Linked DNA regions of Homo sapiens: region 1 is linked to region 2. The links come from fine-mapping of genetic effects on gene expression. Tissue or cell type: whole blood. Region 2 holds a variant in brackets; the other region holds the start of a gene. All regions are shown on one strand. Distances are between the middles of the regions.

Region 1 (8,989 bases), 20 kb after region 2:
GATTTTTACACAACCATATTAATATACTAAAGACAGATATACCTGATCAAATCTGGTAGCAAAGAGATTGAGTGAGGTCACTATGCCGCCATTGGGTCCAAGTCCATATCTAGACACCAAGTTGAGGACTGAAATCGCTTATAGATTAGATTATAAAGTTCATACCTAGGCTATCATTCACACAAACGGCATTATGAAATTAGTGTTCCATTAATGGATACTGGCAACCTAATCCTTGACTACCATACAAACTTAACCACACAGGGAAACAGTCATTATCAAGGTCTGGCTCACTCATTTGATTTAAGGAGTGGTCAGGCAAAATGAAGAAAGCAAAGTGACCAAAATGTAATACAGGTGCATCAGGCAGTGACAGCCCACTGGCATTGGTCATTAAGGCCACCTGTATAACACCTCCGGCTCTGATCCTCATAAATAAACCAAGCAATCTGCTGATTATGATTAGTCTTCCTACTTAGACTTGCCTACGGAGAGAGTACACATTTCATACAGCAATTTACTAAGAGTTAATCCAACTAAACTCACTCATTTCTGAGTTTCCCAGTCTAAAGAGGTGGTGACCAACAGATGATCCTCCAAGGCAAAATACTACCTTGTGGGACCCAGGTAGCTGTCAGTTATCCTATCATACTCTCTGCTCTTTAATTACAACAGCCTGCCATCTGGGGAGATGGTAAGAAAACTAAAATCTCAAGCTGAAATAGTATTTCTGATCACCTACCTCTCCCACAATCAGCTTCCATCCTTTTGCTTGTATATTTCACAAGGAAAAGGCAAAAACACTCTTTCAAGCCACAAAATACACAGACAAGAAGCCAGGAATGAGTCAAGACCAAAGTAGATGGAAAAGGATACTGTTTCATTACTTCTTTATACTTTACAGTATCACGAATATCTGAGGAGAAAAAAAAGAATTAACTGGAATGTAATACATACACATTCCCTACCACCAGGAAAGTAAAACTGGCCTTCTAGCCTTCTCCTGTCAGCATTCTCTTCTACCACCTCCACTTTCACACTGGTTTCCTTCCTTACAAAGAATAAATGCCAAGTAAATCATGAAGAATGTTAGGGCTAGGAGCTCTAAAGTTGTGGCAAAGAGTTTTGTCTCCACAAAGTGCAAAGTTTCATGCAACTTAAACATGCCTAGAAAAAGGGAGGCAAAAATCAAGGGGGAAAAAATGCTTCTTACTAATTGCCTATTACTGACAAAGGCAACACAATGGCAATGCAGACATGATTTTTTAAAAGGAGTTAGGCTGGGCACAGTGGCTCACACCTATAATCCCAGCACTTTGGGAGGCCAAGGCAGGAGGATTACTTGAGCCCAGGAGTTCAAGACCAGCCTGGGCAACATAGAGAGGCCTTGTCTCTCCAAACAAAACAAAACTAGCCCAGCATAGCGGCAGGAGGCTGAGGTGGGAGGATCACTTGAGCCTGGGATGTTGAGGCTGCAGTGACCTGTGAATCACGCCACTGCACTCTGGCCTGGGTGACAGAGACTCTGTCTAAAAAAAAAAAAAAAAAAAAAAAAACCTAAGCTGTTTAGGAATGCAAGCAAATCCAAAGGAAATGAAAGTAGATAGTTTAGAAAACATGAAAAAAGAAGGCACTGAAGACTGGCAGGCTGGAGGCTTTACAGAGTCTCACTCTATTGACCAGGCTGGAGTGCAGTGGCACGATCTTGGCTCACTGCAACCTCTGCCACCCGGGTTCAAGCAACTCTCCTGCCTCAGCCTCCCGAGTAGCTGGAATTACAGGTGCCTGCCACCGTGCCTGGCTAATTTTTTGTATTTTTAGTAGAGATGGAGTTTCACCATCTTGGCCAGGCTGGTCTTGAACTCCTGACCTCGTGATCTACCTGCCTCGGCCTCCCAAAGTGCTGAGATTACAGCCGTGAGCCACCACGCCTGGCCTTTTCCATTCTCTTTAAAGCACTGCACACAAGTTATGTTACTGGTTTACTCACCAATATTGGCAGGAAAGGGAACTTCATGTACTGCTGGATCCAGGTTGATCACATACGGTGGAGTGCCTTGGGCATGCAGGTGTCCTGTGAGCCTCTGCAGAGATATGGGGAGAGGGTTGGAAGGAGACAAAGAGGGGACAAGAGAGAACTTCCATTCCTTTAACACCCATGCCTTAAGAATATTGCACTTAGATTTTCTTCTACCTGAAATATCCACCATGTCCACCTCCAAGATACAACTCTCAGTTCAAATGCTACCTTTCTTCATCACCCATCTAACAAAGCTTCCCCTACTCGTAGTCACTTGTTTACTTGTTTTGATTCTTCGTATGTGGGTTTTCTCTATCTCCTCCATTAAATATTTGGCCCCACGAATGAATCTTGTCAACCTCATTTTCGCTATATCCCCAGTGAATGGAACATGACAGGCGTGCAAGAAATATTTGGCAAATCTTCACCAAAACCTGTGTGCTAGCACTGTATTAATCTTTAAAGTTACTTGTAACTTGCCTCCGAGAAACGCAATTTTATCAGCAAGACAATTCCTGTACAACGTGGTAAGCTGGACCGAGTATGCCCTGAAGGTGCGCAGAAGAGAGCCTTAATTAACCTGGCTAGGGCCCGAGGAGGCTTTGCCGGGGAAGGAACTAAAGTTGATGGGAAGCCCCCGAAAGCCATGCGCCGGTACCCTCCAAATCCTCTTCCCTCCCTTTCTTCCTGGCCTTCCGCCTGCCGGAGGCAACCTTTTGCGCTCCCCTACTACACCCATGCTGTGTACGTCACCTGTACAAAAGTGGTTTTCCCGGATCCCGCCATTCCCAACACCAACAGACACACTGGGTGCCGCGGACCCCCAGAAGCCTGGAGCTCAGCGGCAGCTGCGGACGCCGCCATCTTCCTCCTGGCCCCACCCACCCGACCATAGAGACACCGCATGGGTAGAGAAACTTCCGCAATGTTCTGGGCTGCGAACGAAAACCACCACAGCGTCAGAAAGGAGCGGGTGAGGGGCGCGGCGGTTGCCAGGGCATCTTCTTAGCGTCGGGCAGGGCTGATGAGTCAACTAGTGACAGTGGCGAGGAAGTGGGGGCGCTGAGCAAGCGAGAGGAAGGCTGAAGGGAGCTAGGAAAAGGGCGCTGATCTCTGCAGCCTGGGAGGGCTTTTGTCTCCCGGAGGAAGGCCAGAAGAGATGGGGTCCCGAGGGCAGGGCTCACACAGCAAGAAAACGAGGAGCATGCCTGTCATTTTGAGCCCACAGAGAACGGGGAGCGGAGCCACTGGAGGACCGGCTGCTCGGGCTTATTCGGTAGCCGAGGCGGTTAAACAGTTCAGGGCTGGACCAGCCGGGACTGGAGCAGGGTGCAGTCTCCAGGGTTGCTGGGCAGCACCGAGACCCTTTGAGCACCGAACGAATAAACTACGGGAGCTTTCCACACTTGCACATTGTTCCCGCGAGTTGCAGACGCAGGTTCCTGATGCTAGCGCTCATTCCTTGGCAGTCACCCTCAGTGAACTACACAGTTGCCGTGACCTTCAGGATGAATGCTTGGATTCCAGGTGCAAGTAGGTACTGGAGGGGAGCTTCCTCCCCTCCAGTCACTGAAGGTCCCTCAGAAACTCAGGAAAGATGATGAAAGAGCCTAGAAAATTATTTCTACTCCTGACCACCCAGTCTGTTTCTGTGACCCTTTGTAGCTGCAAACAGTGTTCAGTAAGTCATAAGATCTGGCTTTAATACCCAGGCTCTGCCACTTGCTAGTGGTGTGAGTCATGGGCAAGTCACTTAAACTCTCTGAACCTGTTTTCTCCTTTTTTAAAACTGAGGTAATACCTCCCAGGGTTGTAGTGAATGCACGTTGTAAATGACGAGCTACATTCCTCATCCTTTACCACTAGCTGGATTCCCCACACCTTGCATAATGTCTGGAACATTCTGGTGCTCAGAAATATTCTCTTGTATGAATGAAGGACAGTTGTGCACTTACTTCCTAAAGTTTCATTAACTGACAGAGGAATGTCTCGTTTGTTCTTTCAGGTTTGCTGAGGGCCCCAGAAGGCTCCTTCCACCGTATCATAGTCTAATAAATAATTTTGTCAAGCCAGAGAAGCTAACAAAGGTAGAGACAAGGCTTAAAGAAAAGATAGTGGCGGAAATGACGGATCTGAACAAGCATATAAAACAAGCTCAAACCCAGCGGAAACAGCTACTGGAGGAATCCAGGGAGCTACACCGAGAAAAGTTACTTGTCCAGGCTGAAAACAGATTCTTTCTGGAATACCTGACTAACAAAACTGAAGAGTACACAGAGCAACCTGAGAAGGTATGGAACAGCTATTTACAAAAAAGTGGAGAGATTGAACGAAGAAGACAAGAATCAGCCTCCAGATATGCAGAACAAATTTCAGTGCTTAAAACAGCGCTCTTGCAAAAGGAAAATATCCAATCCAGTTTGAAGCGGAAGTTGCAGGCAATGAGGGACATTGCTATATTAAAGGAAAAGCAGGAGAAAGAAATACAGACATTACAGGAGGAGACAAAGAAAGTCCAAGCTGAGACAGCTTCAAAGACACGGGAAGTACAGGCCCAGCTCCTCCAGGAGAAAAGATTACTGGAGAAACAACTGAGCGAGCCAGACAGGAGGCTACTGGGAAAGAGAAAAAGAAGAGAGCTTAATATGAAGGCCCAGGCCTTGAAGTTGGCAGCAAAGCGGTTTATTTTTGAATACTCCTGTGGCATCAACAGAGAGAACCAGCAGTTCAAGAAGGAATTACTGCAGCTAATTGAGCAAGCCCAGAAACTAACGGCTACTCAAAGCCACTTAGAAAACAGGAAGCAGCAGCTGCAGCAGGAACAGTGGTATCTGGAGTCCTTAATCCAGGCGAGGCAGAGACTGCAAGGAAGTCATAATCAGTGCCTAAATAGACAGGATGTTCCAAAGACCACACCCAGTCTTCCCCAAGGCACCAAATCAAGGATTAATCCAAAGTAACTTCTAAAATAACACTGATTAAATAAGAACTGGAGCAAGTACTCTTAAGTGCTACATTAACCTGGTTAGAAAGGCTGTTGGATTCCAGATTGCTATTGTAAAATCTCCATCATGATGTGTTGGAGTGAAGGATTAGATGGTTTTATCCAACAGTCCTACTAGATATTTGGTAACCAGCTTCCCTTAACTAGCTTTTTCTTTAAATACTCGTTAATAAGCTATTCCACAAACCTCCAGTTAACCTAACACATGACCCTAACCTAGCCATTTACCATACATCAAACTAGCTAAAGGAAACCAACCTAAGGAAGTGAAAACAGTTGTGATTTATTTCATCTAGCTAAATTGTATTTCTTTATAGAGAAAGTACCTTTAAGGATAGCATTCCAAATAGACTTTGAATAGCGTTCTGCCAGTTTATCCTCATTCCTTTTGACCAACTTAGCAGACAAAAGCAGTTTTTACAAGCTCTTTGTGAGTTTGTGCCAGTGACCAGGTAGCTCCTTCTAGTTTTCTCATGAGTGAAAAAGCATTCTGATAACAGCAAGTCCAGTAAGTGCTAGGCAGAGTGACCTTTCATCTGATGCTAAGCCCCTACAAGTTTGAGAAGGTAAGAAAAGATGAAGGAGACATATATTAGGTCAGCTCTTACTTTTGAAAATGTTTTATTTGAAGAAACACCTGTAGCATTGAGGTGACTGAATGCCTCCACTTATTTCAGGAAAACGTATCCAAAAAAAGTTGAAATATTTGGACAACTTTTTTTTTAAGTGCCATCGATTTCCCTAGCAGCATTCTAAAAGATAGCAAGTAAAATGATGTTTGTTATCCTAAATGCTTTAGTTTTAGGTCATTTATTAATTTTCTTACAGGTGCACTTTCTAGTACATGAAGTATCCTTTGTAATTAATGTGTGCCATATGTTTATTCCCATTTAGTATAACTATAAATTATATTTTAAATTATATATTTTTAGGATAGTTATATTTTTTTTGGGTTCTACGACATTGAAGTTGGACTAGTGATTTATTTGAATGCTGAATCCTAGTATAGGGGAATATAATCTTATATTTTAACAGGGGTCCTCTATGGGAAAATAGGATGAACTTTGTTTCCCAGAAATTGTTAAGTGATGAAAAACTTCAAAATAATTTTCCTGCATTTTCTGCTTTATTTACATGTAAAGTGAATTCCCTGAAAATTGGATTTAAAAAGCATTCTCCTTCAATGTGCCTTTACCTTGTAGCTTTAACAACTTTTCTGTTAAATATGTAGTTTTTTATTAAACAATGTTATTAAATAAAAACATTTATCCACTGATTTTATTACTGTTCCAATGTAACACATTTTCTACTTCATCACTCTTCTGTTACCACTCTTAAATGTCTTATTCACATGTGCAAATAATAAAAACTAGTTTTAATGCAGAAATTAGGATTTTAGCATACAGGTACTTTAACCTAAATCTCAATTTGTGAGCTGAAAATACAGAAACACTGAACAAGGAAAGCATGGTATCCAAGACAAACTTGAAGGCTTAGTCTCTGTGGACGTAAAAACCCTAAGACAATGTATTTCTAAGGCTGATAAAAAGTTGGAAAGTAGGAAGCATATTAGTTCTGTTAATTCCCCTCCTGCCACTGGTGTCCCAATTATCTAATTCAAGAGTGGGTAACTTCCACCTGATCTCAGTTCATTTTTACTTATCATCCCAGGTAATGGATATGGTATACTGCTTGTGGCTGTCCCTTCCAGAGTGAGGGCTTGAAGACATTAAAAGTTGAATGATAACTGATTTCATACCTTGAAATCCATACCTCTAAGTAAGCAGCAAGTTGGCCAACTAAGATTTCAATCTGCATTTTGTCTGCTTTGCTATTTAGAAAATTACACAGGGTTATGTTACAGAAAGTGAGTTTAGATGGAAAAGACCTCTGAGGTGAAATTTAAGACCTATGATTGCTAAAATGAAGCCTACAATGCAAAAACTGGGGAAGAAACTATTCTAGGCAGAGGCAACAGTGAATGCAAATGCCTTAAGATGGCAATAAGCTTGGTAGGTTCAAGGAACAGAAAGGTGTGTATGTAAAGTATAGTTGAGGAATGGTCACAGAACATGAGTGGAGGAAAGGAAGATGAGGCTATTAAGGCTAGCAGGAGTTTAGGCACCGAGGGCCTTTAGCAGGTGAATGAGGTCTGATTTACCTAATTTTAAAAACTACAACTGTTATGTGGAGTGTATCCAAGCCAGAAAAAAGTGGAAGGAAACCAATTACGAAGATACTGTAGTCTAGGCAAGAGGTAATGATGGCTTAGATTGGAATGGCAGAAGTAGAGTGAACAGATTCAAAATGTAGTTGGTGGTAGGCAGGACTTGCTAATGGATTTGCTATAAGAAGAGAGAGATGAAGCAAGAGTAAATTTCTAAAATGTTCTCTTTTAAGGAGATGTGCAGAATATTCTTTGTATTTTTTTAGACGGTCTCACTGTGTCACGCAGGCTGGAGTGCAGTAGTGTGATCACAGCTCATAGCAGCATCTTGACCTCCTGGACCCAAGAAGTCCTCCCATCTCGGCCTCCCAACTAGCTGGGACTATAGGTGCACACCACAATGCCCAGCTAATTTTTTTAATTTTTTTGTAGAGATGAGATTTCATCACATTGCCCAGGTTGGTCTAGAACTCCTGAGCTCAAGCGATCCTCCAGCCTCAGCCTCCCAAAACGTTAGGATTACAGGTGTGAGCCACTGTGCCTGGCCCCAGACATTGAGACATATTCATGATGATACGAGAAACCCTACTCAATTTTATAGCTTGTATAGTATTCTACTGTATGACTATATCACAATTTATCCATTCTGATAATGGATAATTATTGTGTATTAGAGTAGGCTAACAAAGAGACCCAAGAATGTATAATGTCTCAAATAACAGACATTTATTTCTTGCTCACTTAATAGTCTCAGATACATGTTCCTGGTTGGCAAGTGGCTCTCCTTCAACAGGTGATTCAGGGGGTCAAGATATCTTCCATTTTGTGTTCTTCCATCTCCTAGGGCCCCATCATCATCTGCATTTAGCCAGAAGAAGGGTAAAGAAAGCTTGGAGGTACACCCACTCAAAAGTTCTAACCTGCAAGTGGCATTCATCACTCCACTCACATTCCATGGGAGAGGAGTTAGCTGGCTTCTCCTTCACTAGAGAGAGTGGAGGGAAGGGGGATAACTAGGAAATATACAGTCTAGCCATTTGTTCTATAATCCCATAATTTGCAAAGGTGAAAGTAGATCTCTGATACTTGTTTTCAGTATTTCTCTACTGTAAACTGTACTGCAATAATCATTCTTTTTTGTGTCTCTTGGTACGCCTAGACAAAAGGAGTTACTCTGTGTATACCCAGGAGAGAAACTGCTAAGTCTTCGGGTACATATCTTCAACTCTGCTAGATACTGCCAAATCACTTTTGAAGTGATTGTACCAATTTGCATTCCAAACCATGTATGAAAGTTCATAATACTGTCAAACTTAGTTTGTTAGTCTAATGAATTTTTTTTAAAAAAACTTTAAAACTCAATACTGTGATTAGAATAGTCTATACTGAGTCCTGCTGATCCCTGGTCTTGGTCAGGAAAAACGAAAGGAATGCCTGCAAGAGGTCCCTGGATGAAACTGGGCAAGTTTCCTATACTAATTCACTTTAATCTCAAACTACTCATTTTAACCAGCATAATTCATGAACCAAAGAATTACTGAGACAACTGCATGTGGAATTTATTTCAAACTCACCCCCATCTCTAGCCATCTTCTTACCCCCATACAGTGTCAAGGAGTCATGCAGCAGGTCGGCGTCAAAGAACACTGGAAACATCTTTCTGAGAGTCATTTATTTCTTTTGTCATTGCCAAACATTCCCCAGGTCTTACTCACCAGAAATTAACATAGCTTCTTCATTTCTCCTCCCTGACAACCCTCATCTACTGAAAGGGCTTTAAGGGCACACTGCCAATGAA
Region 2 (10,591 bases):
ACTTTCACCATATACATATTTTCAATTGTTTCTTTCCTTTTCTCCTTTGTGAGCAAAGCAAACAAGTACTGTCCAAGGACAGCCTTGTGCATATTTCATTTGTTGCATTTGCTTGGTCATCAGAGGACAGCAGTCCATTAAGCACACTTTGCTGCTTCTACTGTAAAGGCAGCCTTTAAAACATAGCAATATGCACCTTTCAACTTTACATCATGTCCTGAACAACATCACTGTGGTTACTCATCCATCAGACTATCTGTATATATAAGTACTGAATCAGTATTTATTAAGTAAATGATGTAGCACTGTAGTGATTAGGAATCATTAGCAAATGTGTTGCTTCATGCCTTGGTGATGGATGCCAGCATGTTAAACTGCTGAAGTTTGATTTTCTGATGCAAAATATATCTTGTAAAATTTAGACCACTCCTTTAATGCAGACCAAAATAAGGCACAGCTTTAATTCATTATTGAATGCCTTAAATGTCCCAGGTATTGAGAATAAATGAATATGATACAAATGAGGTTATAGTTTAACATATAATTTTAAATTTGCCAATTGTAACTCTTTAGCACATTTCTCTAAACCCTTTCTGTCACAGTCTTTTTTTTAATTTATTTATTTATTTATTTATTTTTGAGATGGAGTCTTGCTCTGTCACCCAGGCTGGAGTGCAATGGTGCAATTTCGACTCACTGCAACCTCTGCCTCCCAGGTTCAAGCGATTCTCCTGCCTCAGCCACCTGAGTAGCTGGGATTACACGCACATGCCACCACACCCAGCTAATTTTTGCATTTTTAGTAGAGATGAGGTTTCACCGTGTTGGCCAGGCTGGTCTCAAAACTCCTGACCTCAAGTGATCTGCCCGCCTCGGGCTCCCAAAGTGCTGGGATTACAGGCGTGAGCCACTGCACCTGGCCTCTGTTGCAGTCTTATCTTCATTTTCCTTTGTTTATAATGAAAGTGGCGATTAGGCAGTTAGTTTCCATAAAGTGGCCGTATGGGAATTTAGTTCATTCATCCAGCAAACATTGAGTACCAATTATTTGCTAGGTCCTGTGCAAGGAATACAAAAATGATTAAGACTTCTTCCTTACCCTTTTGGAGCTTGAAGCATAAGGAAGACAAGTTATTCTGTAAGGAAGATAAAGCATTCAAAAGTACTACAGAGAAAAACCAAGTATGCTTGAGTTTTGCGAATGTTCTCCTCTTAAAGAATAGCTTCAAATTTTGAGACCAGTGGTTCCCACTAAGTATAGAACATTAAAATTAATACTTTATAATAAAACACTTTTATTGCTGCAGAATGTTAAACTGCATAACAGGCACCAGATGGTCAAGACGAGGGAAATATGAGAAGGCAAATGATGTGAGGATTAGTATCTTGAGATTCACCTGGTCTGGAATTATGTCATAGGCTACTATGCATCAGAATCACATGGAGGGCTTTCTAAAACAGACTGCTCAGCCCACCCCCAGGGTTTCTGAGTTCATAGGTTATAAGAGGTAAGTTGAACAATTCCCCAGATGATGCTGATGCTCCTGGTCCACAATGTGAGAACCACTAAGTTGGAGTACTGACTCATAGAGATAAAATTCTTTGAAAGAAATGTACTGTTTTAAGATACTGTAAAATGTGGAGGCAGGGCAAACGTTTATAAGGGCTGTTATGTATGAAATGTGCCTCTGACCCAAATCCACGGACTTTGCGAAAATCACCAAGGAGACTTTGCATTAAGTTCAGAGTACAATACAAACTGGGCCTAGCTCTGTATTTAGTCAGTATGTGCACGTGGGAAACTTTAGTAAAATATCACCTCCTTATTGAGACAAGTTTGGACATCTGGCCTTAAGCCTCTGTTGAACAGGAGAAGTGAAGCTGTTTGCAATTATATAATTTTCTAATTTGAAATCATGACAAGCAGTCTTAGAACAAAGTTAAAATTAAAAAGTCTTTATCCAAGTCACCAATGAAACAGGATTCTGATTCATTAATCATGTCTTGCCCACTTTTTTCAACAAACCTGACGTCCTATAATGAGCTATACAGTGTGAGGCATATTTCATAGCAACGTTGGTTGATTGCCAAGGAGACTCTGCCACCGTTCTGGATAAGCTCATGTTTCCCTTTTCCTTGGCTGCTAATAGAAGGGCAACTTACAGTGCAGGGTCAAGAGCAAGAAGCTGGGGGAGTAGAGGCTATACATCTAGCCTAATAATAGAGATCTGAGGTGGTCACCAGGAGACTACGTTCTTTTGATTCCATTCCTCAGCAGCAAAAGTACTTGAGTTCAAATGATAAAACTTGAAGTTGTAGGCTTGGAAGAGTATCAGCTCAGTATATCCTTCCTTGCATAAATACAAGGGAAAGGCCAAGGAATAATCAGCATTAACCTGCCAGGTCCAAGGGTCTTCTATCCCTGACTTCATCTGAGTCACAAGATTTCTCTAATAAGAGAAACTTTGCTACTCTGAGGAAAATTATCCCTTATGGGAGCCCCCAGTTCAGAGGTAAGAACAGTTCTTTCACGTGGAGGTCCAAAATTCTGGACTTCTAGAAACAAGTGAAGTGTGCTAAAGTCTCCTATTTATTGTTTCTCTTCCAGTATTGTGCCATCGATTCTTGCATAAAATTCTGGAATGCTGGCTCTTCATGGCTTTCCTCTGTAACTGC[A/C]AGGAAAAAAGGGCAATTCTTTTTCAACTCTTTCATTAGACAAACTGATTAGAGCCCGTCACCCATCCATCAGAAAACAGTACATTACTTCTAAGAAACTTAAGTACTCACTTCCCTCAAAAAGGAAATGTCTCCTAGAAGCATGCTCTATCATGCTGCCCAAAATGTAGTTTCTTTATAAGTAGAAAGAATACCTCCCTCATAGTAGCTAAAATAAGGTCCCACTTGTAGGTATTTTTAACCAAGAGAAATGAAAACATACGTCTACACAAAGATCTATTTGGAAACGTTTATAGTTGCTTTACTCATAATAGCTAAAATCTACCCAAATATCAGTCCACTGGGGAATGGATAAACAAACTGTGGAACATCCACAATAATGGAATATCACTCAGCAATAAAAAAGAACATACTGATACATGCAACAACATGGAGAGACTACACTACTGAGTCAAAAAAGTCAAATGCAAAAGGCTAAATACTGTGATTCTATTTCTATGGCATTCTGGAAAAGGCAAGATCAAAGGAACAGAAATCAGTCAGTGGTTGCCAGGCACTAGGTGTTCAGGATGGGGACTGAAAAAAAAGGGGCATGAGGAAGTTTTGGGGGGTGAGGGAAGTGCTCTACATTTCAACTGTGATTGTGGTTACAAGAAAGTATATATTTATTAAAGCTCATCAAACTATATACTCAAAAAGTGAGTTTCACTGTTGGTAAACTACATCTTAAAAAATCTGATTAAATAAGGCAATTTACATGTAAAACCCAGCCTAAAGAATAAGGAGATTTGCTCTTGGCCATAGCTAAGACCTAAATCGTATGGTGGTTTTCGTGTTTTTTTGTTTGTTTGTTTGTTTGTTTTTTGAGATCAAGTTTCACTCTTGTTACCGAGGCCTGAGTGCAATGGTGAGCTCTCAGTTCACTGCAGCCTCCGCCTCCCAGGTTCAAGCAGTCCTCCTGCCTCAGCCTCCCAAGTAGCTGGGATTACAGGTGCCTGCCACCAAGCCCAGCTAATTTTTTGTACTTGTAGTAGAGATGGGGTTTCACCATGTTGGTCAGGCTGGTCTTGAACTCCTGGCCTCAGGTGATCCGCCCACCTTGGCTCTCAAAGTGCTGGGATTACAGACGTGAGCCACCGTGCCCGGCCTATGGTTGTTTCAAGAATCAGATTCTGGCAGGGCATGGTGGCTCATGCCTGTAATCCCAGCACTTTGGGAGGCCGAGATGGGCGGATCACTTGAGGCCAGGAGTTCGAGACCAGCCTGGCCAACATGGCGAAACCCCGTCTCTACTAAAAATATAAAAAATTAACCAGCTGTGATGGCATGTGCCTGTGGTCCCAGCTACTCTGGAGGCTGAAGTGGGAGAATCACTTGAACCCGGGAGGCAGCGGTTGCAGTCAGCTGAGATCGTGCCACTGCACTCCAGCCTGGGCAATGAAGCAAAACTCTGTCTCAAAAAAATAATAGTAACAATTAGATTCTGCGCACAGTCCATAAAACTATGCCAAGTGGAATTTGGGTTTCCAGAGCCATTCTATCCTTACTGTTTTAGTCCATATAACCTTATGTATTATTTGTGTTTTTTGTTTTTGAGATGGTCTTACTCTGTCACCCAGCCTGGAGTTCTGTGGCACAGTCATAGCTCATAATAGCCTCAAACTTCTGGGCTCAAGCAACCCACCCACCTCAGCCTCCCAAACAGCTTGAACTACAGGTGTGAGTAACCATGCCCAGCTATTTTTTTCTTTTTTGTAGAGAGTGGGACTAACTATGTTGCCCAGGCTTGTCCAGAACTCCTGGCCTCAAGCAATCCTCCTGACTTGGCCTCCCAAAGCAGTGGGATTACAGGCATGAGCCACCACACCCAGCCCTTACATATTCTTAAAACAAAATACTAATAACAACAAACAAAAGTCCTGGATCCCTCAAACCAAGTTAGGACCTAAAGATAAGAAGACACAAGACCAACGAAAGGCCTGTAATCAGCTCAGTATTAACCATCCAGTAGGCAGGACAGGAACTCTCAATATAGGAAACTCTTTTCTGGTGCTGTATCCTTTATCCACTATTACTGGCTACACGCTTAAAGCAAGAAACTCCTGGGCAAACAATGTGAGGATAAGCAGATGCTCTGTTGCCACGGGCCACCTCAGCCACCTCTCACCTCTGTGGTCAATGTCATCAGTATCGCTGTCTGCTTCCTCATCCTCTTCATCCAAGGTTCCTCGAGTCAGGATCAAATCAGAAGGGTGCAGCACAGGAGATAAGCTGTCTACAGTGAAAACACCTATCAGTGATATGCCTCCTCAAAAAGGTGATCTTGAATCACTAAGTAACTATGATCATAAACTGGCAGGATGAAAGTGCTCATGATACATATAAACGCAGGATCTTACCTCTTCTAAATGTATTGTTAATACCACTTAACATTTCTATAATAGCTTAGTTCACAAAGTGCTTTCATAAGGCAAATAGCCCTAGGAGTCCCATTTTTTTAAGCTGAGGGAAATAATTTTCAAGAAGCTTGTCTTACTAGTAGCATCATTCTTTTTTACTGGCTCACAGCTTGGAAGGGGTGATGGTTTTTCCTATGAAAGCTAACAACATTTGAGCAGATCCAGTGTGCTGGTGAGTCACAGTGAAAGTGTGGAGTGCTAAGGAAGCCTCCTGGTGGAAATGTAAGTTCAGAGAAGGTCTGCAGAAAATACAGGGTGAAATGTTATCAAGGAGCCAGGGTATTATTTAAGAAGAGGAGGGAGGGGAAAAATAGAAAATCAAATACACTAATAGAAGTAAAATTCCCTATTCAGAAAAACTAGTGAGGGCTGAGCTCCAGTAATCAGAGAGAAGTCTAATCAAGTCACTACTGCCATGGGAGGACATAGTCACTCTCTCTTCAGGAGCCTATGAGGCTTGCGAGAGCTCAGCTAGGGAATAAGGGTGGCCAGAGACAGCAACATCAACTGGCACAAATCTCAAGGGGCCTGTGGGCCTGAAAAAGGAGGATGACAGGACATGCTGACAGTAAATGCTTCATTCTGTGCCTAACAATTATGCAACTATACTTGTGACTTTCCTCAAATGATTTACTTAAACTCTCCCAACCTTCAACAGGTTAGCTGACTACAGCAGACCCTTTGCAGCAGTAGTTTTAACATTGACTTCACATATTCAGAAGTGATTCTAAAGGACTGTGGCACATAGAAATGTATTTTGCTGAGCTGTACAACAGGATGGCACAAGTGAGTACACTTAACTGGTAAACCCAGTCCGTTACTAGCTTTGCTGTTCTCTACTAGATATAGAGCAATAACTTTCATGAACAGAAGCATCACTCCTTTAAGAAAGATGTCCCAGAAAAAAAAAATGCTAGTGTTGCTGATGAGAAGAAAAAATAAATGTACAATTTATTACAATAAATAAATAAATGGAGCTTTTCTTTTAAGTACAGTCAATTTGGTTGCAGGATTCCACTAAGCTGCAATAGACTTGCATCTGAATCTTGAGGGCAGTCCCTCAATATACAGGGGTGGGGGTGGAAGGTGGGCTGTAAATGAAAACTAACCTAAAAACCCCTGCAGAGCCAATGATAAAACTAAAAAAAAATTTTTAATTCAGTAAAGTAGCAGGATAAAAGATGAATATACAGAAATCAAAAGCCTTCATACATACAAACATAAACCAGTTATAAGATGTAACGGTCCAGAAAATCCCATTTTCAACAGTAATGAAGAAGGTTAAATACTTAGAATAAATTTCAAGCTGGGGCTGGGCATGGTGGCTCATGCCTGTAATCCCAGCACTTTGGGAGGCTGAAATGGGCAGATCACCTGAGGTCAGGAGTTCAAGACCAGCCTGGCCAACATGGCAAAACCCTGTCTCTACTAAAAATGCAAAAATTAGCTGGGCGTGGTGGCATGTGCCTGTAGTCCCAGCTACACAGGAGGCTGAGGCACAACAATCGCTTGAACCCGGGAGGCGGAGGTTGCAGTGAGCCGAGATCGCGCCATTGCACTCCAGCCTAGGTGACAGAGCAAGACTCTGCCTCAAAAATAAATACATACATACATAAATTTCAAGCTGGGTACAGTGGTTCACACCTGTAATCCCAGTACTTTGGGTGGCTGAGGTGGGCAGATCACTTGAGCCCAGGAGTTCGAGACCAGCCTGGGCAACACGGCAAAACCTCATCTCCACTAAAAATACAAAATTTAGCCCGGCATGGTGGCAGGCACCTCTAGTTCCAGCTACTTGGGAGGCTGAGGCAGGAGAATAGCTTGAACCCAGGAGGCAGAGGCTGCAGTGAGCCAAGATCACACCACTGCACTCCAGTTGGGGTGACAGAGCAAGACCCTGTCTCAAAACAAATACATAAAGATGATTTGTTTTAAAAAAAAAAAATTAAAAAGAAACAGGCAAAAACTCTTGGTCAAAAAGGTTGGCTAAAATAACAAAAACATTTTAAAAAGAAATAAGAAAAACCTATATATGGAAAACTGGAAACACTCCTGAAAGACACAAGTAGACCTGACAAATACAAAGACACTCTGTGGTCTTGGGTAGCAAGACTGAACATCATAGAGATGTCACTTCTCCCTAAATTAATTATGAATATAATGTAATCCCAACTAAAATACCAAAAAGCTTTTTTAAGGAACTAGATAAAGTTGATACTCAGTTCATATGGAAGAACATGTAAGGACAGCCAAATAAAAATTAGGAGGAGAATCTGATCTAGCAGATATTGAAACATAATTACATAATTAAAACAACATGGTACAGGCATAAAAGTAAGGAGTCCTTGCTCACCAAAGCAAGTTAAAAGAAAAAAAAAATGGGCTGGGGATGGTGGCTTATGCCTATGATCCCAACACCTTGGGAGGCCAAGACAGGAGGACTGCCTGAGGCCAAGAGTTCAAGACCAGCCTGGGCAACATGGTGAGACCTCGTCTCTATTAAAAATTTCCTTAAAACTAGCCAGACGTGGTGGCACACACCTGTAGATCTAGCTACTCTGGAGGCTGAGACAGGGGGAATGCTTGAGCCCAGTAGTTCGAGGCTGCAGGGAGCTATGATTGCGCCACTGCACTCCAGCCTGGGTGACAGAGTGAGAAACTATCTCAAAAAAAATAAATAAATAAACAGTCCAGTGAAATAATATAGAAGTATACTCAAGTATGCATGGAACTTTACTACATTTAGAGATGAGGTCTGAGGCTGGTCTGGAACATTATACACGTAGCATCTCAAATCGCTGTTACAAGCCAGGTGCAGTGGCATACACCTATCCAAACTAGTTGGCAGGCTGAGATGGAAAAATCGCTTGAGCCCAGGAGGTCCAGACCAGCCTCAGACCTCATCTGTAAAAAAAAAAAAAAAAAAAACACTACCAAAAAAAAAACTCACTAAGGCAAAGGCAGACTTTTAAATAAATCATACAGATACAACTATTTATGAAAAAAATAACACCGACTTATATACCTTATACTATAGCCAGGAATAAACTCTAAATTAATCGGGGATCTCAATTTAGAAAATAAAACCAGACAAATCTATAAAAAAAAATAGGTGAATTCCTCTTTAACATAGGTATATATAGAGGCTTCCTAACTGTGACTTAAAATCCCAGATGCAATAAAAGATAGATCAATTTGACTACATCAAAACAAAATAAGAACTTTTGCATGGCAAAATAACACCGTGAACAAAGTCAAAGGATAACTGATAGGGAGAAAATATTAAACATTTGCAACATATAATCACAGAAAAATTGATATTCCTATTATATCAATGGATATTAAAACTAATGGGTGAACATTAGAAAACTAAAAGGATATTTATAGTCTCAAAGCATCACCCCACAAAATTCTTATTACAAACAGAAAAACAGCCATATTTAAAAATAGTAATTTTTGTTGTTGTTGTTTTTAAGATGGAGGGAGTCTCACTCTGTCACCCAGGCTGGAGTGCAGTGGCGCGATCTTTGCTCACTGCAACTTCTGCCTCCCGGGTTCAAGAGACTCTCCAGCCTCAGCGAGTAGCTGGAATTACAGACATGCACGACCACGCCCAGCTAATTTTTTGTATTTTTAGGAGAGATGGGGTTTCACCATGTTGGCCAGGCTGGTCTCGAATTCCTGACCTCAAGTGATCCACCCGCCTCGGCCTCCCAAAATGCTGGGATTACAGGCGTGAGCCACTGCGCCCGGCCTAAAAATAGTAATTCTTTATGAAAAACGTAGCATACACCACTTTATAAAAATACTCAAAGTTAACATCACCAGTAATGGGACAAATCAACATCACGTGCCTCCCAATGTGATTCCTTGAAAAAACACAATTCAAAAATTAGTCACCTGAATCAAATCATGAGGAAACATGAGACAAACCTAAACTGAAGGATGCTCTATAAAATAACTATCCTACATGCTTAAAAAATGTCAGTCATGAAATACAAAGTCAGACTAAGGCACTGTTCCAGATTCTAAAGGAGTATAAGGCATGTGAGAATTAAATACAATGCACATCCAGATTTTCTCCTGCTATCATGGGGAAATGGCTACATCTGAATAAGATCTATATGTTAGCTAATATTATAGTATTATGTCAATGTTAATTTCCTGATTTCTGATAACTGCACTGAGGTTATATAAAATTATATCCTTGTTTTTAGGAAAAAGACACTGAATTATTCAAGGTAAAAGAGTATTATATCTGTAACTTACTCAAATGATTCAGGAAAAATATATATTTATATAACATATAAAGTCATATATAGATAAAGAATAAAGTAAACATGGTAGAATGTTAACATTTTGGGAATCTGATAGAATAATTATGGCAATTATTTGTATTATTCATGTAACTTCTGTAAATCTGAAATTAAGGTCAAACTGTAAAAAAAAAAAAATTTTTTTTAATTATAAAAAAAATTGAGGAGGGTTAAAAGTGTTAGAAACAAACAAAAAAAACCACCACAGCACACATCAAGTATATTGCCAAAGTAAAGCAAAAACTTCCTGAAAGAGGAACCCAAAGTGGTAGAGCTGTATATAATTTCAAATTTGCCTTTCCAAATCCTTTATTTTTTAATATATATGTATGCATATGTATGTGTGTGTGTGTGTGTGTGTGTGTGTGTGTGTGTGTATATATATATATATAAAACCACATTTCCTTTATCTTTTTCTCTTTCTCTCTCTCATATATAAACAGAATCCTGCTGATAGAAATAAGTGTAACCGGCCAGGCACAGTGGCTCATGCCTGTAATCCCAGCATTTTGGGAGGCCCAGGTGGGTGGATCATCTGAGGTCAGGAGTTCGAGACCAGCCTGACCAACATGGAAAAAACCCCATCTCTACTAAAAATACAAAATTAGCCGGGTGTGGTGGCACATGCCTGTAATCCCAGCTACTCAGGAAGGCTGAGGCAGGAGAACTGCTTGAACCTGGGAGGTGGAGGTTGTGGTGAGCCGAGACTCCAGCCTGGGCAACAAGAGTGAAACTCCGTCTCAAAAATAAATAAATAAATAAAAGAAAGAAGTGTAACCTTTTTTTAGTTCCTAACACCAAGAAACCCTCCAATACCTTTGGCAGTCCCTGCATCCAAGGCTACAGAACCCATATCTTTTCGAAGGCGTTCCAGTTGTTCTCTCTGCTGTTGGCTCTCTGCGTTGGCCTGTATATACAGAGAAAAATGTCATCATATTCAAAAAGGAGTCCCAAATTAGATGCCAGACTTCTCAGTGGAGATGAAGAATTATACAAATACTAGAGGCTACATAAAAACTGATGCAGATAAGGGACGTCTGGTATAGGGACAGAAACACTAAGTAGCGTGGGCCTGGGTTACTGCAGAAGTTTAGACTGGAGGGCTCTGCAGACTGATTTAGAGGGTTCAGAAACGGAACA

What was found. PIP is the estimated chance that this variant, and not a neighbour inherited with it, causes the effect.
Region 1: GPN1 starts here. The variant in region 2 is fine-mapped to the expression of GPN1 in whole blood (TOPMed, PIP 0.94).

Annotation. Positions count from the first base shown.
Region 1 is chr2:27,622,954-27,631,942 of GRCh38, reverse strand. GPN1 (GPN-loop GTPase 1) reads right to left here and starts at 2,893. Exons shown (of 14, transcript NM_007266.4): 1 at 2,774-2,893; 2 at 1,991-2,084; 3 at 877-916; 4 at 43-109. The coding sequence starts at 2,884. It overlaps CCDC121 (coiled-coil domain containing 121), which reads left to right and starts at 2,931. Exons shown (of 2, transcript NM_024584.5): 1 at 2,931-2,993; 2 at 4,026-6,305. The coding sequence starts at 4,144. The coding sequence ends at 4,980. It overlaps ZNF512 (zinc finger protein 512), which reads right to left. Exons shown (of 14, transcript NM_032434.4): 14 at 8,726-8,989. RefSeq lists enhancers at 2,649-2,748, 2,789-3,098, 3,159-3,218 and a silencer at 3,667-3,961.
Region 2 is chr2:27,642,196-27,652,786 of GRCh38, reverse strand. GPN1 (GPN-loop GTPase 1) reads right to left here. Exons shown (of 14, transcript NM_007266.4): 12 at 10,268-10,358; 13 at 4,844-4,951; 14 at 1,276-2,672. The coding sequence ends at 2,587. SUPT7L (SPT7 like, STAGA complex subunit gamma) reads left to right here. Exons shown (of 6, transcript NM_014860.3): 6 at 1-1,978. Among named protein-coding and RNA genes, the nearest start is that of SUPT7L, 16 kb to the left of the region's middle. RefSeq lists an enhancer at 1-180. The variant A/C (reference allele first, on the strand shown) is at 2,677.